Regions from separate parts of the Homo sapiens genome. Here region 2 is linked to region 1. A link means that fine-mapping ties the variant in region 1 to the expression of a gene that starts in the linked region. Tissue or cell type: sun-exposed skin. Region 1 holds a variant in brackets; the other region holds the start of a gene. All regions are shown on one strand. Distances are between the middles of the regions.

Region 1 (2,840 bases):
TTCTGGGATTCCCATAACTGAAAAGGAAGATAAAAGATGTCTTTTAACATGAGCTGTAGCTTCCCCTGTTTGACATGTGGCCCAAGTAAAATGTGAATAGGTATCTACTGAAACATGAACAAAGGAGAATTTTCTTTTCTTTTCTTTTTTTTTTTTTGAGACAGTCTCGCTCTGTTGCCCAGGCTGGAGTGCAGTGGCACGATCTCTGCTCACTGCAAGCTCCGCCTCCTGGGTTCATGCCATTCTCCTGCCTCAGCCTCCCAAGTAGCTGGGACTACAGGCGCCTGCCACCACGCCCAGCTAATTTTTTGTATTTTTAGTAGAGATGGGGTTTCACCATGTTAGCCAGGATGGTCTCGATCTCCTGACCTTGTGATCCGCCTGCCTCGGCCTCCCAAAGTGCTGGGATTACAGGCGTGAGCCACCGTGCCTGGCCCCGAAAGTACAGTTTTCTAAAAGCAGGAATACGTGTTACATCCATCTGCCAGATGGAATTTGGAGATAAACCTCTAGGGTTAACTCCTGTTCTTTTATGTGGCAGATGCAGGACTTGGCAGGCAGAACAGTGTTGCACAATTTCTTTAGCTTATTTCCATGATAGACCATATCTTCTTCTAAGGCCTGAGGCATTAAGATGGGTTGAAGAATGAAATGTTTGTGCATCAGCAAAGGCTGCAGACACCAATGCATCCGCCCTTTTATTAAGTTTAGTTAAAGGACCAGGGAGGTTAGTACGTGCTCTCATATGAGTGGTATAGAAAGGGGAATGCCTTTATTGCACTGCTTTCTGTAAAGAATGAAATAAAAGATTAAGTTGTTCCATCAGTCACATTTCGAATTAAGGCACATTCAATATTTTGCATGGCTTGCACTACATAGGCTGAATCAGAAACAATGTTTACTGGCTGTTTAAAAGTTTTTAACACTATTATCACAGCCATAAGTTCAGTCCTTTGAGCAGAAAGAAGCAGTCTGTTTGAAAAACTTGCTGTTGAGGTCTTGCAAATGAGGCTTTTCCATTATTAGATCCATCAATAAAAACAGTAATGGCTCCTTCAATAGGGGCTTTTTGAGTAATAGAAGGCAATATCCAGGATGTTAATTTCAGAAACTGGAAGATTTTAGACTTAGGATAATGATTATCAAGAATGCCAACAAAACTGGCCAAATTAACCTGCCATTCTTGGGAATTAATATAGGCTTGTTGAATTTGTTGTTTAGTTAATGGAACTATAATCTGATTTGGATCATATCCCATTAGATTTGTTGTGCGCAGCCTCGCTTGCCCTACTAGCACAGCAATTTGATCTAAGTACAGAGTGAGTGTTTTGGTTGTATTGTGAGGTAGAAAAAGCCATTCAACCAGATCATCTGCTGGTTTTTTTATTATTTATGGCAGGAACAGTAAAAGCAAATTTTTCATAATCTTGGGCAGCTAAAGGAATGGTAAAAAAGCAATCCTTTAGATCTATCACTATGAGAGGCCAGTATTTTGGGATCATTGTTGGGGAGGTCAGCCATGGTTGTAGCGCACCCATGGCTTGAATCACAGCATTAACAGCTTTTAAATCTGTTAACATTCTCCATTTCCCTGATTTTTTCTTAATGACAAATACAG[G/A]ATAATTCTAAGGGGAGAAAGTAGGCTCTATATGTCCCTTTTGCAATTGTTCCTGCACCAGTTCTTTTAAAGCCTCCAGTTTTTCCTGTTTCAGCAGCCATTGCTCCACCCAAACTGGTTTGGCAGTTAGCCACACAAGAATGGGAACTGGAGGCTCAACAATGGCTGCTCCTAAAAATGACACCCCAATCCGGTCCGATCTGTTTGTCCTTCTAAAGGTTCTGATTGGCCATTTTTATTTTTTCCTAGTTCTTTTCCTGGGTGATATCCCACATTTTTCATTATTTGTCTACTATTATTACTATATTGATCCACAGGAATAGATATTTCAGCATCCCATTATTGCAATAAGTCTCTACCCCATAAATTGACAGGAATAGGTATAATGATAGGCTGAATTGTCCCTTCCTGACCATCAGGCCCTTGAGATGGTAAAATCAAAGAACTCTGAAAAACTTCTGAGGCAGCTCCTACTCCAGCAATACCAATGGATGCCTTTTGTTTAGGCCAGTGCAGGGGCCATTGCTTTATAGCAATAATAGAGACATCAGCTCCAGTATCTGCTAGTCCTTCAAAATCTTTTCCCTGAATGGTTACTGTGCAAACAGGTCTTTCGTCAGACACTTGATTAACCCAATATACAGCCTTTCCTGCTGGATTACTATTACCAAAGCCTCCTGTTCTTTTCACTGTGCTGCTGCCTAGTTTTATGTAAGGTAACAGCAACAAATCAGCAATTCTTTCTCCTGGGGAGGCAGACCACAGAGTCAAGGAACTAATAACAAATTGAATTTCTCCAGTATAATCAGAGTCAATTATTCCTGTATGTATAGTAACACCTTTTAATTTTTTTTGTTGAGATGGAGTCTCACTCTGTCACTCAGGCTGGAGTGCAGTGGCACGATCTTGGCTCACTGCAAGCTCCGCCTCCCGGGTTCATGCCATTCTCTTGTCTCAACCTCCCAAGTAGCTGGGATTATAGGCGCCCACCACAACACCTGGCTATTAGTTTTTGTATTTTTTAGTAGAGACGAGGTTTCACCATATTAGCCAGGATGGTCTCAATCTCCTGACCTCATGATCTGCCTGCCTTGGCCTCCCAGAGTGCTGGGATTACAGTCGTGAGCTACCACACCTGGCACACCTTTTAAATTTAGACTAGACCTTCCAAGTAATAGACCGACTGTTCCTGAGGATAAGGGTCTCCTAACTCCCATGGGGA
Region 2 (2,500 bases), 560 kb before region 1:
ACCCCTCGCTCGCCCGTGGCCCGGTACCCTGCCCCTCGCCCTCTGGCGGCCGCCGCCGCAGCCGCAGCCGCCGCCGCAGCCAGCGCAGGAGGCCCAGGGCTCGCGCTACACTCAGGAGCCGCTCCTTGAGGCCAGCGCGGCGGGGGCCCACGGCCTGGGAAGCGGCGCCTGGCGGGGGCCTCGCGAGGAGCCTGCGGACCACCAGGAGGGCCGCCAGCGGGGCTGGGTCCTCCGGCCCCGCTCCTGCTGCGGCTCCCGCTTCGCCCTCGCCTGCCGCCGCTGGCACCTGCCCCACCGCCTTTCCGACCTGGTGGCGCGGAGCCCGGGCCGTCGAGGCCTGCATTGTTTCTGGCTCGGCGCCCCGCTGCGCCCGGTTGTCGCTCGCGTCCTTGGCCGGCCCAGTGTCCCGAGGAGCCCGCGAGCTGTCCTCGAAGGTCCTGGAGGCCATAGCTGCCCGAGAGCCCCGTCCAGGTCCGGTCCCCAGCGGACTCGAGTCGGAGTCCCCGCCGGAATGCTCGCTGGCTCCCAGGGGCCCCGTCCCCGACGACCCTTCCCGGCCCCGGGTATCTGCGTGGGGCCAGTCGCTGTCCAGGCCGTCGCTGCTTGGCTCCAGCGCTGACTCCGGCCCGGTTTTTGTCCCTTCCGAGCCCATGTCCGTAGGCTCCGGCGTGGGCCGCAGCTCCCGGGCTGTGCCGCGCTGGCTGCCGCTCTCCTGGGCCTCGCGGGTTTCGCTGTCCGGACAGGAGCTGCCTCCGTCCCCACCCGACGTGTCCCCATTGAGGCTCCTGGGCGTCCGGCGGCCCCGCCGAGCCGAGGGCCCCTTATCTTTCCGCTTCCTCCTACGGCGGCCGCCCAGCTCTTCTCCTCCGGAGAGGCTTCCCTCCTCCAGGCGCCCCCCGCGGCCGCCCCTGGGCCCGCGTCCCTGACGCTGCGCGTTGCTTTGCCTCTCCTGGGCTTTCGGGGACAGCCCAGCCCCTGGGCGTCTGCAGCCGCCGTTCCCCTCTGCAGTGGGCTTCCTGCGGCCACCAGGGGTTCCCTGGCCCCCGGCGGTGGCAGGCTCGGCCGCCGGTTTCGCCCTGTCCGCCTGCCCGCGGTCGGAACGGCGTTCCCGGCTGGGCGCGCCATCCGCGCTGGCCGACCCCGACTCCTGCTCCCCTGAGGCCGGCCTCCCGGGCCTCTCCAGGCGCTGGGGCGCTTTGCGCTGGTTCCTGCCCATGGCTGGCCCAAAGGAGACGGGCTTCCCGACGCCCAGGTCCTTTCCCCTCCCCGGGGATTTGGCCTCCCGCGGTGACCTTCTGTGCAGTGCACCACCCGGCTCTGCTCTCGCAGGGGCTACAGGCTCTACTCCCCGAGGTGCCCGCCTTACAGGACCATCAATAATGCAGAAGGCGGCGGGTCCTGACCCCCTCGGCCAACAATGGAATAGAGGCGCCCAGGAAACAGGAGACGCTACAGCTGCGGACAGGGCAACAGTGCCGCCGGGAGGCGCTGCCAGCCAGGCCAGCCTCGCACCGCGCCAGACTGAGGGGGTCCATGCTCCACTCCCACCTCAGTGCTTGCCCAGCAAGGAAGGGCCCAGAGAACCTGTCTGGACTTCTTCCTTCTGAGGGTTCCAAGGGACTGGGGCCAGGCCCACCCTGGCACACGGCAGCACTCCATGAGTCGCTAGGGTTTTTGTTCTTTTCAATTGTGGAATAAATACAATTTACCGAAAAGTACATAAAACATAAATGTACATCTTGAACTGGTGTAAAACATGCCTGTCTACCTCCTTGGAGTTGTGGAACAGAACCACACCCCATACATTCCTGATTGCCCCAATGTGTGTGTTTTTAAAATATCTATTTTTAAAACAGGTAATACATTCACATAATTCAAACATCCAAACATTACAAGATAAAAGTCTCCCATTCCTGACCCTCAGCCTATGTACTCAGTGTTCCCCTGAGGTTACCCATTTCTGTATTTCCTTGCAAAATTTTCCAGGTTGGCCGGGCGCGGTGGCTCACGCCTGTAATCCCAGCACTCTGGGAGGCCAAGGAGGGCGGATCACGAGGTCAGGAGATGGAGACCATCCTGGCTAACATGGTGAAACCCCCGTCTCTACTAAAAAATACGATAAATTAGCCGGTCGTGGTGGGGGGCGCCTGTAGTCCCAGCTACTCGGGAGGCTGAGGCAAGAGAATGGCATGAACCCAGGAGGCAGGAGAGAATGGCATGAACCCAGGAGGCAGAGCTTGCAGTGAGCTGAGATCACACCACTGCACTCCAGCCTGGGTGACAGCATTTTGTTTGTCTCAAAAACAAAGAAACAACAACAAAAACTTTCCATGCAGAGAAAAGCAAATATTATATTTTTCCCCTTTAGCACAAGTGGTAGCTTATGTAGCTCCGGGGTCTCCACTTTGCCTTTTTCACTTAACAATGTAATCTGGTGATTTCATAATAATACCATAAAAAGCCAGCCTGCCTTCCTCCCTTCTCTCCTCCCTCTCTTCCT

Evidence for each region. PIP is the estimated chance that this variant, and not a neighbour inherited with it, causes the effect.
Region 2: MYO15B starts here. The variant in region 1 is the best candidate, but not a certain one, in a credible set for the expression of MYO15B in sun-exposed skin (GTEx, PIP 0.89).

The regions. Positions count from the first base shown.
Region 1 is chr17:75,025,766-75,028,605 of GRCh38, reverse strand. No RefSeq gene overlaps it. Among named protein-coding and RNA genes, the nearest start is that of TRR-CCT1-1, 6.7 kb to the left of the region's middle. The variant G/A (reference allele first, on the strand shown) is at 1,619.
Region 2 is chr17:75,586,774-75,589,273 of GRCh38, reverse strand. It overlaps MYO15B (myosin XVB), which reads right to left and starts at 1,474. Exons shown (of 64, transcript NM_001395058.1): 1 at 1-1,474. The coding sequence starts at 1,216. RefSeq lists silencers at 1-202, 243-372 and enhancers at 1-824, 1,253-1,322, 825-1,658.